Linked DNA regions of Homo sapiens: region 2 is linked to region 1. The links come from fine-mapping of genetic effects on gene expression. A gene starts in region 1. The other region holds a variant in brackets. All regions are shown on one strand. Distances are from middle to middle.

Region 1 (10,722 bases):
TTGACAGAGCCCTTTATATGCCTGAGGCCTTGACACAGAGAATTCATTTAATTTCCCCATAATTCTTTGAGTGGATATTATCATCAGAGGAAGAAACCAAGGCTCAGAGAGGTTGAGTAACTCAGGGTGTCCTGTCCTTCAAGGCCTCTGAGTACAAAAATAGCACCATCTCCAAGATTTTTTTGGTGTGGGTGTGTTTAAGGGATTTTATGAATTACTTTTTGTTTCTAAAGCACAGCAGTTCACAATCTTTCTGAGAGTAGTTCCACATTTCTTGAACAGCTCCAAATACCTTCCATACAAAGAAACAACGAGCTGTAGTCAACCATTATATGAAGTGTACAGAGAGGGGCCTAACATCAGATCCTAACGTTGTCGAGATGAAATTAAATAATTCTTGATCCTGAGAAGGGAGCATGGAAAAGACCTTACCTTTCCCTTGGCCTTCTTTCACTCTGGCTATAGAAAGAATCTGGGCTTTGGAGACAGACCTGGATTCAAATCCCAGCTCTACCACTCACCTAGCTGTGGAAGCTTAAGCAGATTACTTATCCTTTTTGAGCCTATTTATTTTATTTGTAAAATTGGAGACAAGAATACCTAACTTAGAGGGCAATTGTCAAGCTTAATTGAAATAATAAAGTGACCGGCATAGAGTAAGCACTCAGAATGTGGCAGTTATAATTATGCTTTTAGTTATTATTATGCATGCCACTGTCATAGGGCCAGCTCTGTTAAGCTGTGGAGGAAGAACCTCCAGGCAGTTTTGCTCTTTCCTGAAAAATCTAACCTGGGAGGCTGGCTAGCTGGGAAATCCTCTGCTGTGTAACAGTGAAGTCACTGATGCTTATGCTGTTTAGCATCTTACTGGCATTTATTGGGCATAATTACAGAATCATAGCTGCTAGGAATCCAAGTCTTAGGGCTGAGCTGGCAGTGCTTATATGGAACACAAAGTTTTAAGTTCTCATTAAAATAGTGGGACAAACACATTCCTGCCTGGGGCATTCAGAACATGTCTAGAATAATGGCTCTTGAAATTCAAAGAGCAACCCTCTCTTGAGTCCTCCCGTAGTGTCCCCAATCACTCTATCTGACCAAACCCATCTGTGGTCACTTTCCTCATTCACCAATTCATTAATCCAATAAAAACGTGCTAAACATCTGCTCTGTGCCAAGCACTATTTGACACTGGGATGATGTCGGAAAACCAAGCAAACACATTTTCTCCTTCCACTGAGCTGCCAGTCTAATGAGATATACACATAAATGGACAATCTGAATGCAGTGAGTCGAATGGGGGAAGCCCAGGTTTTGAGCAGTGGTGTGCTGGTAAATGTTAAACGAAAGGCTCTTGGTGGAGGGAGAAGGAAAACCCTGATTTATAGCCTTTCCTGATCTCCATGGTGTAAATATTCCCACCGTGGGGACTGGGCTACCAGCATGATGTCACTGAGTGTGGAGTTGCGAGTAGAAATGCAATTGCACACAATTATACAGTATTTCTACCATATAGATAAATGGTGAAAATAAGAGCACAGATAATAGTGAAATATAGTAAAATAATTATGAAGTACTAAGTTTTGAGAATTTATTACCTCTATTTATGTATTAGTCATTTTCACACTGCTATAAAGACATACCTGAGACTGGGTAATTTATGAAGGAAAGAGGTTTAATTGACTCACAGTCCTACATGGCTGGGAGGCCTCAGGAAACTTACAATCATGGTGGAAAGGGAAGCAGGCAAGTCTTACGTGGTGGCAGGAGAGAGAGTGTGTGAAGGAGGAACTGCCAAACACTCCTAAAAGAATCAGGTCTCGGCTGGGCAAGATGGCTCACGCCTGTAATCCCAGCACTTTGGTAGGCTGAGGCAGGTGGATCACCTGAGGTCGGGAGTTCGAGACCAGCCTGACCAATATGGAGAAACCCCGTCTCTACTAAAAATACAAAATTAGCCGGGCGTTGTTGCGGGTGCCTGTAATCCCAGCTACTAGGAGGCTGAAGCAGCAGAATCGCTTGAACCTGGGAGGTGGAGGTTGCGGTGAACCGAGATTGCGCCATTGCACTCCAGCCTAGGAACGAGAGGGAAACTCCATCTCAAAAAAAAAAAAAAAAAAAAATCAGGTCTCATGAGAACTCACCATCATGAGAACGGCATGGGGGAAACTGCCCCCATGATCCAATCACCTCCCTTCCACCAGATTCCTTCCTTGACACATGGGGATTATGGGGATTACAATTCGAGATGAGATTTGGGTGGGAACACAGAGCCAGACCATATCAATTTATAATTTACTTAATTATAAGTTTATATAGATTGTTATTGAAGGCTGTGCTTAATACAGCCTTAATACAGCTGGGTGTAAGAATGCATGGAAATTTGGCCAGGTGTGATGGCTTACTCCTATAATCCCAGCACTTTCAAAGGCTGAGGTGGGAGGATCTCTTGAGCCCAAAAGTTTAAGACCAGTCTGGTAACATAGAGAGACTTCATCTCTACAAATAACATAAAAATTAGCCAGGCCTGGTGGGATGTACCTGTGGTCCCACCTACTTGGGAGGCTAAGGCAGGAGGATTGCTTGAGCCCAGAGGTCAAGGCTGCAGGAAGCCATGTTTGTGCCACTGACTCCAGCCTGGGTGACAGTGAAATCTTGTCTCAAAAAAATCCACAAAAATTCATGGAAATTGAGCAATCAGTTCGTAAGAAAACAACACTAAACACACTAAATCAGTTCTTAAGAACACAACACTAGCACAACACTAAAGGGGACCGAGGCTGGAGAAAATAACAGTCTCCTTTCCTTCTTCCAGCTCTGTCTTTCTCTGACCTCCACACCTTTGCTTATTCTGTGCTCTTAGCAGAAGATGCTGTTCCCTTCCTCACCTCCACTCTTATTCTTTCCATCCTTTCAAGGCTGACTGAATCCAAGCCGTTGTCTCTGCTTGGCTTCCCCTCCCCTTTTCTCTGGGAAGTGCACCCCCTCCACCCACAGGTTACAGTGGGAGCAGCCAGGTTTGTGCAGTAGGACCCTGTCACTCGGGCCAGAGTTAATTAGATAAAGGGTAGGCATCTGATCCAACTTAGAATGTGGACTACAAACAAAGATTCCAGCTTGCTGCTGGTAAAAGCCATTTTCTGGAAAGCAGAAATGCTTGTGTGATGTGAGCAGACAGGCAGAGATGAAAGATGGGGGAGAGAGTACTTTCTGGGTTCCCTTTAGTACTCAGGTCCTGCTTGTGGTCTGATCCTGAGGCCCAGCTGCACCCCTGCCCTAGTGTTCCATGGGATATTTCAGGATCTCCTGAGAGTGCTCTCTCAAGTAATCCCTTGTATGAAATCCCTGTCTCATCCTCTGCTTCTAGGGACAAACTACAAGGCATTCGATGCTCAACAAATACTTGTGCTGATAACTTCTCTTTCTGAAGCCAGCTCCAGGAGAGGTCTGTAATCAGAAGAGCCCCTGAACCCTGAAGCCTCCTGGGCTGCCCAGCCCAGGCATCTCCTCTGTGAGTTTTGCGACACCCTTCTAGTCATTTAACGAGCCTCATTGGCTTTCTCTGTGAATACGATGGAAGATGGCCACCTCAAAATGGCAGCCTTGGCCTTCAGAGATCATTGGTCCTCACAGACCCAGTTAATTAACCATGATTGTCATGTCTCAACTTCCAGCTCCAAATTCTAATAGTCCAGCTTTTTTCTGCCGTCCACTCCTCATGCTGTCAACTGTGTTGTGGGGGAAGGTTACAGTACAAACCTGGGTGCAAGTGAGGGCCATCCCCTTGGGTGGGAAGAGGCGTTCTCAGAGGAGAGAGCAGGTACCCCCAGATTGTCTAATGCCTGGCCTGTGTGTGGCCTTCATTTCTCCCCAGCCTCACTCTGGGAAGGAGGTGGTCTTCTGGCAAAAGAAGATATCAAAGTTCTTCCATCAGAGGAGATCCTTATCAGCAAGACATTCACTCTGAGGTGAGGATCCAGGACAAACAGGCCTTACCTTACCTAGATCCAATGGGGGGAGAAGTACAAAGAGGTATCTAGAAAGGAATGAAGACAGGATACCAAGAAGACTTCTAGGCATCCATGAAAGGCAGACTTGATATATCCTGCCAGCTATAAAATACACATGTTGAGTCATAAAGCAAAGCACCAGGAGATTTCTAGAAGTGTTCCTAGAGGAGCACTCCCATGTAAGTATTGGTTATCATCATCACAATCATCATCAATCAATCATCATCATCATTATCTTCATTATCATTTCTAATGATTCCTGGTGATACCCTGTTCCCATGTTCCTCTCCAGCCACCAAATGGAGCAATTACAGGGTTATGGGTAGGCATCTGACCCAGCTTAGAATATGGAACCTTAGATCTAGCTTAGAATGTGAACCCTTTTGCTCTCCTGGCCTCAGTTTCTCCATCTCTAAAGGGAGGAGTTGGAGCAGACATTCTCCAATGTTTCCTCCATCGTGATGTGGTATTCTCCAGTTCTATGGGGACACAGATTCAGAGTTCCACCTCCCTTTGTCTGAGAGCAGTTGCTGGGGCTGGAAATGATATGTTAGATAATTCCAAGGCATGTGTATGCCGGGGCTTGTAATCAAAGATTCCAGAGCCAAATAAGCCTGTGTTTTTGCTTTTCTCCCCAGCAGCCTTGCATTGGGCCCCAGGCAGCCTCTGGAGAAAGCAGAGAGTAGCAGAGATGGTGTGAGCCTCCCTGCGGGGTGGATACCTTGCTTGTATTCTCAGAGAAAGTGGAACTGGGCAGAATTTCCCAAGCCAGGAAAGGTGGCAGAGTGTGACATAAGACATTGAGCAAAGAAGCGAGGGCCAAGGACTCAGGCATAGAAGAGTAGACTGCACAGTATCAGTAGTGTGACCTCCAGAGAGTACTTAACCCTTTCTGTGGGCTTGGCCTGCTCATCTGAAAAATACACATGGTAATGCCTCCCTTAGGAGGCCAGGTAGGGAGGTGAGAATTAAAGTCGGTAATACGTGGGAAGCCCAGAGCATGGCATGAGGCATTCAAGAAATGGTTCTTGTATTTACTGGTGTTGAACAAAGAGAGAATGGCAGGAGGAAGAGCCAGGGTGAGATTCCCTGGGTCCTGTGGCTTCCCTGGCTGCTATTCAATGGAAAAACCAGGGAGTGAGCACTGTGCTCTTGGCTTCTGTGCTACTTAAACAACAGCCTTTTCTGCTCTGATCCCCAGCACCCGGCAATTACTGACTCTAGTACATTTTACCTTGTGTTAAGAGGGAGCTTTACCCTGGCTGAACATGGGGCTGCTGCCAGCACCCAGGCTGGGAATGGACATCTCTGTCATGTGGTGCAGTCTCCTGTGGAGTGTGTGAATCCTTCCAAACCGGAGTCACGCGGCAACTCCAAAAGTCCTGGGAACTCATGTGTGCACCAGGACTGCTGGGAGGCCGTCTTATGCCTTGCTGCATTATAAACGGCTATCGTCTCAAATGCATATGAGATGTTGTTGAAATCAACAAAGTATTACATTTGCTTAAAATTGACCTTGCACTCATCTTTCTACCCAATGTGGATTTCCTCAATCTCCTAAAACAGTATCTGCCATGACACTAATAAGAACATCCCTTCCGTTTATGCAGAAGCCACGGTCCCTGTCATTGTGCTGAGAGTCTTTTTCTCACTGAGTCTTCTCAACCGCCCCATGAAGCGGCAATTCAGGATGCCCATTTGACAAACGAGGAAACGGAGACTTAGACATGTGAGCTCGCTTGCCCAAAGTTACAGGACTAGTCGATGTCTGGGGTTCCAAACCAGGCCTTCTGACTCCGAGGCGCCTGCTTAATGGTCCACTTTAAGGACCAGGGATGCACTTGGCATTTTCGTTACTTCATTCGGAATGAGCTGGGAATCGCTCTTCCTCCTTATTCCCTTCCGTGGGAGGGAATCTCCCCTGCTTTGCATGCAGCCTATGTCACTCTTCGAGGGCTTTGCCTCCTGAAGTCCGTTCTCTCCAGGGCTGAAATCTGCCTCCGCTGGTGCTAGTTGAGCATTGCTCGCTTGCCCGTCCCATCTGAGCTCTTTGGCCCCAGCCCAGCTCAGGAGCTGCCCTGGGTCTCCTCCCCGACCCTAGGCCTCTTCAGATCTCCCCTCCGTGCTCCGGGCCTCAGTTTCCTCCAGGGGAAAGCAGAGGGCTTGGTTTGGTGCCTTCCTGCGAGGTGAAGCGAGGGGTCCCCCTGGACGAAGGCGAGCTTGGAGCCACCCGCCCAGCAGCCGACGGGAGGGCCTGGCGCTCCTCCCCCACCCGCCTGCCCGGCCGCCCCGCCCCGAGGGCGGCTCCCGCCCGCGCCCTGCCCACCCCGGCCGCGCGCACCACAACGCCCCCGCCCCGCCGCCCGGAACCAGCTGAGCGCAGCTGGACCCAGCAGCCGCTGTCTCCAGTGCCGCAGCAGCAGGTAGGGGAGGCGCGCGGCCCCGGCCCCGGGCATCTGGGGGTCCCGGGCTGATTTGAGTCCTTCCTCTCCCTTCCTTCCCGGTCCTATCTCGCCCGCGCCTGGAGCTCGGCCCGGCCGCGGGGGCATCGCTGGAAAAGGGCTTCCTCGCTCACTTTTCCCGTCTTCCAAGGGACCAAAGAGTGTGGATGGGAGTTGGGGGATGGGGAGACGCCGGAGCAGGAGAGGAGAGGGGCCAGGCCTCCACCCCGTGATTCCACTGTGCTGCTAGCACCTGAGCTAATAACCTCGACCCCGCCCCCGGGATGGGGGAACTGGCCCGGGGTCACCCCTGCACTTGGGTTGTCTGACCCGGGCATGCAGGGGACCACCAGCTACGGTCTGGGCGGTGACTCTGCTGGGGAGTCCACTCAGAGGACCCTTGCCTCCTGGACGATACCTGTGCCTGCTCTCCTCTCCAGCTGCTTCCTCTTTCTGGGGACTGTTAGAAAGTTCTTCCTTACACTGTCTGAAATCTTCAGGCGCCTGCTACCTGTAGGTGCTGGCTTCTCCCCGGCCCTGCAGTGTTCCCTTCCCTGACTCACACGGAAGCTTCTTCTGGAGTTGAAGACAGTGATTGGAACCCCTTCTCCCTGAGCCCCCATGTCTTCTGGGGTCCAGCCCCCCAGAACCTAAATAACAGCAACTTCCCTCTGGTCCAGTGCAGGCTGGCTGGTCTGGGCAGTGCCCAGGGGGAAGCCCCAGTCCTTGGAAGGCTGGGGGCTGGGGGTGTGGGTGAGCAGGAGACATTGGCTTTCTTCCTAGCTCCTTGTCTGCCCAGACATCTGTCGCTTTATCCTGTCTTCACACCCTCCTCAGAGCATGGAAGGGAGCTTTAAAACACCCAGAACTCATTCTGGGCTGTCCTGAGGGTAATTGGACTTTGTGGAAGGCGGGGCCTCTGGGGAGGTGCCTTTCGCTTTTGTTTGGCATCTGGGGACTTTTCAAACACTTAATCCTGTGTGTCCTGTTCTCCCAGGACCACATTTCTGACCAGGGCACCAGGACCTCTCACCGCTCTGCCGTTTACAGCGACCATAGCTTGCTAGAATCTTACCCCATCTCCATTTCCTCCATTTCACAGTTGAGAAAAGTCAAGGACCCAGAGAGTTTATGATGGGCTAATTGTCACACAGTGAGGCAGGGTAGGGCTGAGACCCAATTCCGGTCTGCCGTTTGCGGACTCCTTGCTGGGAGGGACTCTAGCCTCCTTCTTGGGTGTTCCGTTTACTAAAGGGACAAGCATTCCCTGTACATACACACTTGGGGGTGCTGGTTGGTGTTTCTTGGGGCTGTTAAGGGGGAGAGGCTTGGAAACAGAGGAGGAAGGATGGGGGTGGGAACGGTCGGCTTTCAGCTCCTTTGAAACTCCATTTTTCTTTCTGGGGCCATGCTATTTATAAATGCCAGGGAAATTGTAAACAGCCAGGGGAGCTTGGGTTGGCACTCGGTGAGTTACACAGCAGCAAAGAAGGTTTCTGTGTGAATCAGGGGAGGAAAGTTTACTCCAGAATTTTCCACAGTCCTTTTATTAGGGACTAACATGAGCCTGGAAACAGGCTGCTCCCAGGAGGGGTGGCTGCAGGGTTTGCCCCGCATGGCATTTCCTTCCTCCCCGCCTCCCTCCTTTCAGCACTTCTCTGGGCCTGTGTTCTGTGCCTTGCCCTGCGAGGGGCCAAAGAGCCTTGGAAGAGGACAGAGCTCTCTGTCCTCAAGATGCTTGCCATCTATACTGTTTGACACTTTTGTGCCATATTAAGAGTGACTTCAGCCTGCAAGAGGAGTGACTAATTTTGTCTAGGTGAGCCAGACCTCAGAATGAATAATCATTTACCAGGAGAAACAGGAGTTGGGGGAAAAGACATTCTGGGAAGCAGGAACCACTAGTGCAAAGGCACTGAGATTTTCTGAGCCATCCATGTGGCTAGAGTGGAGGATGGGAGAAGGGCGGGGTGGTGGGAGGTTGAGAATCTAAATGAAAATGGAACTAGATTATAAGCTAAGGGTTTGGACCTCATCCTGAAGGCAATGAAGAGCTGAGAAAGGGTTTTGACAGAGCAGTGATTTTTAAAAACTCGTTATTCTGAATGGCTGATGTAGGGGATGCATTGAACGAGGCTGATCTGGAGGCAGGAAGGCCCTGAGGAGGCTGTTGCATGATTCAAGTGAAGTAGATTGCAGGTCTGAACTAGAGCAGTGGCCACTGGGATGGGTCAGAGCAGCAGATTCTGGAAGCCCAGCTGAAGGTCTCAGAACCTGCTATAAATTTCATCTAAAAGCAGACAACAGGCTAGACCTACTGGAGAAGGTTGCTAAGGTATTCAGCATTGTAACTTTTTTTTCTTTTTCATGAGTTTTAAAACAAACAAAAATTGTTAAAGAATCCCTCCAAGCCCGCCTCTTTCCCCAGAGGTCGCCACTGTTAACAATGGTGTGTGCACTCCTGCCAAACACGTTGATTGGATGCCTTCACTTTTAGCCATCCAGTGACAGTGGGTCACTTTCCCCTACTCCATGTGAATAGTTTGGGTCATTTGTGATGTGGGTCATAGAGATGATTTCTGCTTGGTCTATGGTACGTTGCTGAGACACTGAGCTCTGGTTTTCTTTAAGAAAACTTTTACATCCTGTGTCTGCGGCCTCTGGGTGTGTATATTTGCTTATCAGAGACCACAGGTGTGAGAGAAGTTAGAAGCACTGACTTGGAAATGGACCCCCAGTCTTGGTTCTTTGGGTGACCTTGGGCAAATCCTATCTCTCTGAGCCTCTGGTTCCTCATGTGTAAAATGGAGAGATGTTGGTTTGCATGATAATAATAAAAAGCTATCTTTTAACTGGGCATGGTGGCTCACACCTGCAGTTCCAGCATTTTGGGAGGCCGAGTTGGGTTGATGGCTTAAGCCAGGAGTTTGAGACCAGCCTGGTCAACATGGTGAAACCCTGTCTCTACTGAAAATACGTGCTGGGATGCTCCTGTAATCCTAGCTACTTGGGAGGCTGAGGTATGAGAATTGCTTAAACCCTGGAGACGGAGGTTACAGTAAGCTGAAATCACGCCACTGCACTCCAGCCTGGATGACAGAACAATACTGTCTCAAAACAAAAAAAGAAAAGACAAAAAAAGCTATCTTTTAATATACCAAGCACTGGAACATTAATTACTTTATTGATTCCTTGCAACCATTCCTCTGAGGTAGATACTAGTATCTTCTTTTACAGATGAGGAAACTGAGTCCGAGGCTGAATAACATGCCCCGGGTTGTGTGGCTATTGGGTGATGGTGCAAGGATTCCAGAGGTCTGACGACAGAGCCATAGCTATTAATGACAGCACTAAACATTCTCTTGAAAATTCTTTCTAGTCCTGGTATTAGGAGAACTGGTAAGGGAGTTTGTTATGCTTTTATGAGGGGTGGGTGTCGGTGTGCAGAGCTTGGAGAGCTCAGCCCTGCAGCAGAGAGGCCTGGAGGGGCCTCCCGGGGCTGTTTGTAAACTCATGCTTTCCTGTGCCATCCGCAGGACCCTCAGTGCAGGTCAATCTCCCCTCCATTTCAGGGAATCCAGGCTCCAAAAGGACACAGGACTTGCCCAGCAAGGTCATGTGGTGAGGTGAGAGCCCAGCCAGGACTGGTCCCCCCTTTTCATCAATCAAGCTTATGCTCTGGAAATCTATCTGGCGAAGCCAGGAAAACTGGACACTCTCCTGCTCCTTGGTTATTCCCTGAGAAAATGCCAGCAGAAGCAGAGAAAAGCACGTCCCAGGGGTTATGCATTTTGGGGAGGAAGGGAAAAAAAGAGACCAGTGTTTAGGCAGCCGGGGGATGTTAAGTAAAAATATCTCCTCGCTTTCAACGGAGTGAGCGTGTGTCATATTTCAGCCTGATGTGGTTTGTGAAGTTGGAGACCACAGGCAGGCTCAGTTCCTGCTGCTGGCCAGCTTCCCCTTCCCTCTGTCCCTCCCCTGCCATATGCCTGCTCTCGTCTGCCCTGCCTGGGACCACATCAGCAATTTAAGAATAGGGCAGAGAAAAGCAGTGGGTGTTGTGGGCAAGGGTAGGCAGCTGAAGGCCTGGGCTTGGGTCCTGGCTTTGCCAGTGACAAAGTACTGGGTGACTTGGGCTAATGCATGCCTTTCTCTGGGCCCCAGTGTCCATTCTGCACTGTAGGGTGGACAGCATAATGTCAGCCTTCCCAGCTCTGATGGCCTCTGAGTTGGAGGGCTTTGTGCTCCCCACATGTACTTGGGTCCGGCAT
Region 2 (10,503 bases), 40 kb after region 1:
AAAAGAAAAAAAGAAAGAAAGAAAAGAAAGGAGCAGGGAGGTAGAGCCCTCTGTACCCTCCATCACCAGAAAAAGCTGAAGAGGGGCTGAGTAGGAGGGACAGATGCTGGCCAGGGCACAGGTTTTGAAGCATAAAACTCTTGCCCTGTTTGCTGACTCGTTGAGACAGGGTGCCCAGAAGGGGATAGACTTCCCTGGGGCGTGGGGAGAGCAGGAGGCTCAAGTGAGATGCTCTTGGTGCTAGAAACCGCCCTCCCTCATGCCTGGGGTCTCTCCCTGCCAGGACCCTGCCCCGCTTAGGCTCTGCCCTGTCTCATCCCAGCCCAACAGCATGGTGGTGGAACACCCCGAGTTCCTCAAGGCAGGGAAGGAGCCTGGCCTGCAGATCTGGCGTGTGGAGAAGTTCGATCTGGTGCCCGTGCCCACCAACCTTTATGGAGACTTCTTCACGGGCGACGCCTACGTCATCCTGAAGACAGTGCAGCTGAGGAACGGAAATCTGCAGTATGACCTCCACTACTGGCTGGGTGAGGCTGGCCCTGCCCAGCCCCTGCCCCAGCCCCCATTCTGAACAGTGCAGACCTTTGGGGCATGGTCCCCAGGGAGGGAACTGATTATTGAGCACCTAGTATGTGCTGGGCCCTTGACTGGTGGTTCATGCCCTGAGACGCTAGAGCCAGCCTGGCCAAGTTCACACCCCCACTCTGCCCCTAACCCATGTTCTGTCCTTTGGCAAGTCACTTAGTGTCCCTGTGGAGTGGACATGATGATAGCTCTGCACTACCTCACAGGAATGTTGTGAGCGTTAAACACCTTACTGTGACACTCAGAACTGTGGGTGAATTGGAGACCCTGGACCTCTCCACAACTTCCCTGGCCCAGCTCCAGGCACTCCCCAGTTTGCCCTTGAGTCAGGAGCCCGGAGTCCCTGCCACACCTCTGCCGTGGGATGCTATAAGTTCTGCCCCCTTGCTGAGCCTCAGTTTCCTAATCTGTGAATTGATCTGATGCTCCCAGTCCTGAGTTTACGCTCAGGAGGGCTGAGAATGAACATAAGGGAATGTGACAGAGCTGGGAGGACGCTTAGAGAAAAATGAGGTCCATCGTCCTGTTATACAGATGGATTAACTGAGGCTCACAGAAGGCAAGGGCTTTCTCAGCTTCTACAGCTAGGTCAGGGCAGTGCTGGGGTTCCTCCTCCACCTCCTCTTCCTCAGGGGTCTGGGATACTTCTGGAAAGCCAGGCTCATATTGCTCTGATGTCCCGTAGGCAATGAGTGCAGCCAGGATGAGAGCGGGGCGGCCGCCATCTTTACCGTGCAGCTGGATGACTACCTGAACGGCCGGGCCGTGCAGCACCGTGAGGTCCAGGGCTTCGAGTCGGCCACCTTCCTAGGCTACTTCAAGTCTGGCCTGAAGTACAAGGTGGGTTGGGCCCCACCTTGCTTGAGCGGTAGGGACAGATGCACCAGTAACAGGGCTCACTCAGGCCCATCTATCTTTTGGCCTTGTGATGCAGTGGGCAGACCGATCAGAGGTCAGGCTTTGGAGTCAACCAACATTGTGTTTAAATCCTGGCCTCTTTCTAGCCATGTGAGCTTGGACAAATCACACTGCCTTTCTGAGCCTCTGGTTCCTTATCTTAAAATGGGGAGAAGAAAATTCCCCATAAGTTCATAGTGTTGTCTTCCTAGCCCCAACAGTGAGGAGTGGGCCAGAGGTGAAAATCCAGTTCTTCTTGCAGGCCCTGGGGGGCTTTGGCCTAGTCCTGTTCTGGTACCCCTTAATTCTTAAGGCCTTGCCAACAGAGGGCCCCGTGTTAAGTATTTAATAGGGCATTGTTAGTCACATCCCTCTTTCTGTTCACTAGAATCCCCTTTGAACTTGAACTCTTCAGAGTCTGGATCAAGACAGAGCTCTTTTCCCAAGCTCCTAGCCAGGTGGGGCAGAGCAAGGCCAAACTGGGAGCTCCAAGAGGCTGCACCCTAATATGCTGGTGACTTCCTGCAAGCCACTTGACCTCCTTGAGCCTCCCTTTCCTCTCTGGTTACCTGAGAGCCAGTTGTACCTGCCCTACAGGGCTGGGAGAGGATTTGGTGTGGGGGTGGCTGGGAAATGCCTTGCGTGGGGCTTGGCCATCTGGAAGGGCTATGGAAACACTGTAGTTTTACAAAGCTGGGGTTTTCCTTGGTCAGGATAGAGAAGGGGATCACAGGCTTTCACAGCCAGGTGGGCCTTAATGTCAGAGTCCAAATCTCATTTTACCAGGGGAGAAGGGGAACTGAGACACAGAAAGTCTTAAGCAATTGGCCCAGAGTCACACAGCGAATTGGTGCCAGACCCAGGACTAGAACCCAGATGTTCTGACTCTTAGCATTCTTTCCACTAAACCAACATACCTCTAATGACCAGGGTCCTAGGGTAGGGTCCAAGCCTGTCTGTGCTGCTGATGTGCTGTGTGACCTTAGAGAAGTCACTGTTCCTCTCTGGACCTCAGGATCATCTATGTCAATGGAGTGGTGACCTTGTCTGCCCTGGTGAGGCATAAGAGATTGAATGATGGGAAAGTGCCAGTGAGACTCAGATAGCAATGGGCAGGGTGTGTCCTGGGAACTCACAGTCCAGGGCTGGGCAGGGCTGGGCTGGATTCCCTGGAGCCCCTTGTGCCCTTGCACTGAGCTCCTCCTGCTGAGGTGTCCAGCTCTGCCTTCTTCCCACAGCCCTTTCTGGGGCCTTGATACCTTGCAGAAGGAGAGGTGAGAAGTTTGGGAGCCAGTCCCCTGAGCTGGAGAAGGACCAGGTCTTTTTGCAACTTCTGGAGCAAGAAATGGAACGAACACTTGCCCAGGAATCACAGAGATTGGGATTCAGGTTGGAAGGCTACCTTCTGTAACTGCTGTGAGACTTTGGGCAAGTCTTGTATCTTTGGGCGGGTGTTCTCAATCATCCTCCATTCATCATTCATTCAGCAAATATTTACTGAGCCTCAATAACAGCAGCACCAGCTCATTGTTGCTACACTATGGCAGATATGGTACTGGGAATGTAGGTTATCTCGTTTCAGCCTCACAACTGTCCTGGGAGGTAAGTAATTCCCATTCCATTTTACAGATGAGACTGGAGGCTCAGAGAGGTCACATAACTATATTCAAACCAGGATTGTGTTCCCTTAACTCTGCCAGGCCCTGTGATGGGTGCTGGGGTGCCCAAGTGAAGAAGGTGGGTCCCTGCCCTTGAGAGTGTTCTGAGGAGTTGGGGAGACTGGCAGGCTCACGAAGAGTTAATCCATTGCCTCCAGGTGGGGTGATGTGGGATCCCAGGGAGTGCTCAGCTCTGAGAGGGGTTCAGGGATGAGATAGATGAGTAGGTGTTTGCTAATCTATCTTGTCCTAGTCACTGTTTCTTAGGGCATAACCTGACAGTCTAACATGGTTACAAATATGAGAGTTCTCATATACACAGAAAGGGTGATTTTCCAGGTCAGAGAATGTTGCAGAGCAGGTCATAGGCTCCCGGATTTTTAGGAATAAACAAGGATGATAATAACCCTTACCGTGTGTTAAGCCTTGACTACAAGATCTCATTTAATTCTCACTGTAGCCTTTAGGGTGGATGGTAATGCTCCATTTCATAGACGAGGAAGCTGAGGCTCAGAGGAGCAAACTAACTTGCCTAAGTTCACACAGCTAGTAAAAGGTGCTTGTCATTGAACACTTATCTATTACTTTCTGTGTGTCAGGGACTCTTCTGGGTGCTTTACTCATTTAACTCATTTTACCCTAACAGGTAGGGTATCTGTTAGCACCATTTTATAAATGAGGCTACTAAGGCACAGAGATGTTAAGCAACTTTTCCAAGGTCACACAGCTAGTAAGTGATTGGACTAGTGTGCAAACCCAGGTGTGAAGGGCCTAGCACAGACCTGGTTCAGAGTAGACATTTGGAGGCTCCCTGATCTTTGATCCTCGCTCGGATATGGCCTGGGATCTACTTGGATAGCCAGGTTCCCCGGCCCCCCGATGATTTTCCAGGATGTTCTTGGATCACACTCGAGGAAAGCTCCAGCTGGGCCCAGATTTGGGGCTTCTGTCCTGAAAGGCGCTGGCTCCTGGTGTGAATGGGAGGCCCAGGGCTGGTCTTGTTTACCACCTTCTGTAAGTCCTCAGTCTGCCCCCGCACTTGGCAGGTCCAGCCCAAGGTTCTCGCCCCGGCGCCCTCATCAATTATAGATCCCGGAGGAGCAGGGCTTGTTATGCAAGACTTGTTCCTGTGAAAGCCTCTTCCTCTGAGCCAATTCTGTCCTCGGAGTGTGAGAAGGGGCAGGGAGGGGACAGCAAGCCACTAGAAAGGGCTGACATGGGGCTTGGCCCTCTTGTTCTATGACCCCCAAATCCTTAGATCACTGCCCTGCAAGAGAGTTCAGAATCCCTTGATTCCCCGCCCCTCCTCCTCCCACTCCGCAGACCCCCATTTTTGGACTGAATCCTGGAGACCCCGTGGGGCTGGGTTATTTGAAACCCATTGTTCAAATGGAATCTGGGCTAGGCAGAGACCTAGGAGCCCTTGGACCTGAGGAACACAATTGGGAACCCATAGAATCACTGGAACCTTTCTGTCCTCCCTCTCTCCTATTCCTTAGATAAGGAGCTCTGAGTTTAGAGGGTGGAGGGGCCCAAGCCTGATCAATTCATTTTTCTTTGTTTTAGAAACAGTTTAACTTTTGTTTTCATGTAAATCTTCATTGCTTCTTTTCCCCCTTCTTCTGACTACAAGAGCAATATAAGCTTATTGTAAAATGTCAAACATTACAGAAATATAGGTTCCAGAAAATAAAAGCCCTCCCAACATGATTCTCCCCTTGGAGATATATAGTGGCTAATTTCTTTCTGTCTCTCTGAACGTATATAGGTAGACAGACACATATATATGTAATCACTTTAATTTGGAAAATGGCTTTTAAAACAATTTATCCTGTAGAATTTTGTTCAAATAATTTGATGCCAATCTTGCTCACCTAATGATTAGACCACAGAAAGCAGCAATCAGTGCTAAAGATGATAGTCAAAAACAGGAAAAACTTCAAAAAACTTCTTTCCCCTGCCCTTGTAGATCCACTAATGTCTTCTAAGAGCTTGCTTTAATTTATTTTTGTTAATTAATCTTTCCAATTCTAATTCCCTAGACCAGTAAAATTAGAGGAGTTAATTAATCAGGCAGCTCATGGCTGCAATAATTCAACATCAAGAGTTATGTTATAAGGCCGGGTGCGGTGGCTCACACTTGTAATCCCAACACTTTGGGAGGCCGAGATGGGTGGATCATTTGAGGTCAGGAGTTCAAGACCTGCCTGGCCAACATGGTGAAACCCTGTCTCTACTAAAAATACAAAAATTAGCCGGGCGTGGTGGCGGGTGCCCGTAATCTCAGCGACTCAGGAGGCTGAGGCAGGAGAATCACTTGAATCTGGGAGGCAGAGGTTGCAGTGAGCCGAGATCGTACCACTGCATTCCAGCCTGGGCGATGGAACGAGACTCTGTCTCAAAAAAAAAAGAATTATTTTATAAATAAATACAGAGAATTTTTAAGAAGTGAGATTTATGAC[A/G]TGAAGCAACCCTTTTCCTTTTTAAAAAATAGGGTAAAGATTTTAATAACAAAAATGAAAGGCATACTTCAACAAGTAAAATATTTAGAGGGGTAAAAATTTTTTCTTTCCCCCCATTTCCTTGTCTCCGAGGAATCAATAGAAACAGTGAGTCCTTCTAGCACCTTTTGGAAAAGGTTTGCACATCCACTCTCTCATTATGTCCAGGTGAATGAAGTCCCCTGGTCAGGAGTTCCTAGGCTGACAGTTGAATGAAGCTGGGTCCCTGGAAGGGGGATCTTGGGGATAGAACCCAGCACTGCCGCCCAGCACTGGGCTCTGGACACAATGCTTAATCTCTTTGAATCTCAGTTTCCTTGCCTTTGAAGTGGGAAAATTATTAATAGTTCCTGCATCAGGGGCTTGTGGTCAGGACTTCATTGCATGCACTTAAAGCAGGTGCCCCAGCTTTGGCAAAGCTCGGTAAGTGGCAGCCACTGTGCTTGTTTCAGGTAAGCACAGCTGAGCACAGGTGAGCGCAGGTTGTTGCATTTTCTTCCCTGGCGGTTCTTCCTCACTTGCTCTGGGCAGGCTTGGTTACATCGGTCTCAGAACCCTCCTGTCTTTCTGCGCTTCCCCTGCCTTTCTGCGCTTCCCCTGCATTGCCCTGACCTATGTCCTTTGCACTCTGCCTGGCTCTCCAATCCCAGGCCTCACGGCCATCCAGCCTTCGGACCCCCTCAGTTGTGACTGCAGTTGTGACTGCAGCTGGTCAGTCCCTCACCCCAGAGTCCCAACTCACTCCTTCCTGATGATGGAAAAATTTACTGTCTTGCTTCCCAGTTTTGGGCAGCAAATTCAGGAGCAGAAGTCACAGTCTTACCCCTTGCTCCACACCGAGGTCAGTCATAGTGTGGCCAACCCACAGCTCCCTTGAAGGGGCCCTGGAAGCAGGGTGGAAAGATAGGTTGTTAGCTCTGTGAGCACTGGCCGCCCTGCTAGTCCCAAGGGACTCTTGAAAGGCCTTAGCTGAGACCAAGAAGGGACACCAGGGAGTCCTCCAGCCACTGGCAACCCAAAAACATCCATTACTTGAAAGAGGGCTCTGAATAATGGCTTGTTCCTGCCTCCCATCCTGGATGACTGAGTGATCTTTGCTCTAAGAAAACCTGATATTGGCTGGCACAGTGGCTCATGCCTGTAATTCCAGCACTTTGGGAGGCCAAGGCGGGAGGATCACATGAGGCCAGGAGTTCGAGACCAGCCTGGCCAACATGGTGAAACTTCATCTCTACAAAAAATACAAAAATTAGCTGGGCATGGTGGTGCACATCTGTAATCACAGCTACTTGGGAGGCTAAAGCACAAGAATCGCTGGAACCCAGGAGGTGGAGGCTGCAGTGAATTGAGATTACACCACTGCACTCCAGCCTGGGCAACAGAGCGAGAAAACCTGATATTGAGAGAAGAATGTGGATCTTACAGATTCAGACATGCCTGGGTTTGAATTCTAGCTCCACCACCTTGGGCAAGTCCCGTCACCTGTGGGCCCCATTTTGCACATCAGTGCGATGCAGCAATGACACCTCCCTTGCAGGCGATGCGTGAAGAATGCCCGGCACAGTGGGCATCATCATTTCACAAACACGTATACTGCTGACACAGGAAGACAGAGCAGGAGCCCAATATACACGGACTCCGTTTGTCCCTTGCCCTCCTCGAGTCTGTGCGGCTAGAATTAGACTTAGCACAGTGGGCTGAGGGGCCCTGGATGGGGTGGCTGCATTGCTGGCCTGAGTGGAAGCCCTCTGCTTCCACCCCCATGTGTCTCCGGAGCAGGGAGACGAGCACCCGATTGGGAGGAGGAAACAAGGTTTCCAGCCTTGGCTTGGCCACGCACTTGCTGAGTGCCCTTGAGTAAGTCACTTCACTTCTCTGGGCTTCAGTTTACCGTGGGTAAAGTGGGGTGAAGTAGAAGGACCTTTCCAACTCTGATTTGACAACTCTGGGGCATGGAGCTGGGGACTGCTCACAGGAAAGCCCAGCTGACTTTCCTTGGCTTGCTTCTGAGTGAGGGCAGTTGTGACTGCAGCAGGGAAGCTCTCCTGAACGCCTTGCTCTGGGATGCAGTAATGATTACAGAGGGCTGGGGAGCAGGAGCTTGTGTCTCCACTTCAGAAAGGAGAGGCCTGAGGCTCGGAAAGGGCAAGTGACTTACCCAAAGCCATCCAGCATTGTTGTGGCGGGGCACCTGTCCCTTACCCATAGCTGCTCTGAAGGGACTGCTGGGTGGGAGTTGCTGCGGTACCGTAGGGGAAAGCAGAAGGGTGGCATGGGCTGGAACAATCCAGAAAGACTTCCCAGAGAGCCTTGAAGGATGAGAAAGATTTGGATTAGTACCTCTCAAAGTGGCTTTTGCAAAATACTCAAGCTGGAGGCAGGATATGGTGAAGAAAAGTGGTTCTTGGGCTGGGTTCAGTGACTCACTCCTGTAATCCCAGCACCCAAGGATCTCTTGAGGCCAGGAGTTCAAGACCAGCTTAAACAGCATAGTGAGACCCCATGTCTACAATAAAATAAAATAAAATAAGTAAGCTGGGCACTGTGGCTCATAACTGTAGTCTTAGCCACTCGAGAGGCTGAGATGGGAGGATCATTCAAGTCCAGGAGTTTGAGGTTACAGTGAGCTGTGATTGTACCAATGCACTGCAGCCTGGGACAGAGTGAAACCCTGTTGAAAGGAAGGAAGAGAGAGAGAGAGCGGAAGGAAGGAGAGAGAGAGAGAAAGAGAGAAAGGAAGGAAGGAAAGGAAAGAGAGAGGGAAAGAGAATGAAAGAAAGAAAAAAAGAAAGGAAAGAAAAAAGAAAGAGGGAAAGAAAGAAAAGCAGTTCTTGGTTCAATAAGATAGGGAAATACTGTATAAAACAAAAGGCAAGCAGGTGTATTCACCATAGGATTTGACAGAGCCTTTATTATGCACATGCGCGTTGTATAACAGTCAGGGAGGGTGAGTGAGAAGCATTCCCTATGCTTATTTGACCGTGGAACTCTTTCCTTGCAGAATGTCTTAGGGGACTAGTGTGCCTTTGGGAAACGCCGGTTTTGAGGAAGGAATTGTTGCAGTTTTTTTGATTTAGAAAGTGGCTACAGGGGTCCTTGTTAGTGGAGTATGGGATTCAAAGGGGTGGCAGAAAGATGCAGTGGGCAGGGAATCTCTCACTTCTTAGCTGTGTGGCCTTGGGCAAATTTTATTCCTTTCCTAAACCTCAGTTTCCTACTCTGAAACAGTCTCAAACAAGATAATGGGTATGAAAGTCCTGAGTTAACTGAGAATCACTGTGTTGCTGGAAAGCCCCTGGTCCACAAGCCAGAATTTCCTTTACCTCAATTCTGTCCCCTTCTTCCATATCTGCTTCCCTGGGCCTTCTCCCCTGGGCTAATGCTGTCTCTTTGGCCCCACAGAAAGGAGGTGTGGCATCAGGATTCAAGCACGTGGTACCCAACGAGGTGGTGGTGCAGAGACTCTTCCAGGTCAAAGGGCGGCGTGTGGTCCGTGCCACCGAGGTACCTGTGTCCTGGGAGAGCTTCAACAATGGCGACTGCTTCATCCTGGACCTGGGCAACGTGAGTCCTGCTTTCCTCTTTCCCAGGAGCCACTGAGGTGCTCCTGGTCTGATCAGGGACTTGGGTACATCCACGTGAACAAATGCATAGATGCAGGTGGGCAAACCACAGGGACCAGCATTGTTCACGTACAGATATGTCTGTATGCAAAGACTCCCACAAATGTAGACTCACACCACGGGTATAGTGCGTACTTGGACTTTGATTGACATATAGACTTCCTGGCACCTTCTGTTCATATGTACGTCTTGTGTCCTTTTTCACATGCTTATAAATATATAACAGTCATGGGCAAACACTCTGGGCTTTTGCCCACCAGGTGTGCACATGTGCACCATCATGAATGCCCACACATGTATACTCGGGTATGTTGTTTAAGGTCCCACATGTGTATGTCATACATGTAGTTGCACATGCCCATGATCTATGGCAATGTGTGTGGGATGCCCTTACCCAGGCCCACCTTATAGATGTGTGACGCTTTGTACACACTTGTCTCACAAATCCCTGGAGCGCAGACCTGCAAATGGACACGGCCCTTCTACCCCAAAGCTCATATGCTTATACACCTGTGATATAATGTCCGTGCAAACATGAGCACACACTGATTTAGTGTAAGCTTTTTATTAAAGCGTCATGGGCACACAGAGGAGTGTGTGAATCCTGAGTGTACAGCTTGATGGATTACACAGAGCGAACACACTCACGTAACACTGGATCATGAAGCAGAACCTCACCAGCCCCTAGAAGGCCCCTTTTGCCCCTTTCGGTGCCCTCACCCCAAGGGCAACCATCATCCTGAACTTTCTCAACAGCATAGATGAGTTTTGCCTGTTTCTGAACTTTATAGACACGGAACCTTGTTCTTTTATCTCTGACCTTTTGCTCAACATTACATTTCTGAGATGCATCCGTATTGTTGCATTTAGTTGTAGGTTGTTCATTTTCCTTGCTGTGGAAGATTCAGTTGTGTGGGTGTACCATGATTTATGTATCCTTTATGTTGTTGATGGGCACTTGAGGTGGCTTCTGGTTTGGGGCTATTACAGACAGTGCTACTCTGAACATTCTTGCACAAGTCTTTTGGTGGACATACGAACGTACTTCTGTCAGGTATTTTCCTAGAAGGAGGATTGCTGGGTCATAAGGAAATAGGTATATTCGGCTTTAGTGGCTATGGCCAAATGGTTTTCCAAAATGGTTGTGCCAATTTATATTCCCTTCAGCAGGCAAACATTTTTGCACACATTCTAGATGTAGTTGTACCTGTGAAAAAATTCCTGTCCTCAGACATGCGC

What was found. PIP is the estimated chance that this variant, and not a neighbour inherited with it, causes the effect.
Region 2: its variant is fine-mapped to the expression of GSN in whole blood (TOPMed, PIP above 0.99). The same link has a PIP of 0.9 or more in monocytes.

What each region holds. Positions count from the first base shown.
Region 1 is chr9:121,261,787-121,272,508 of GRCh38, forward strand. It overlaps GSN (gelsolin), which reads left to right and starts at 6,376. Exons shown (of 18, transcript NM_198252.3): 1 at 6,376-6,433. RefSeq lists an enhancer at 1-20 and a silencer at 6,264-6,563.
Region 2 is chr9:121,301,641-121,312,143 of GRCh38, forward strand. GSN (gelsolin) reads left to right here. Exons shown (of 18, transcript NM_198252.3): 3 at 323-527; 4 at 1,271-1,425; 5 at 9,044-9,205. The coding sequence starts at 332. Among named protein-coding and RNA genes, the nearest start is that of GSN-AS1, 21 kb to the left of the region's middle. The variant A/G (reference allele first, on the strand shown) is at 5,603.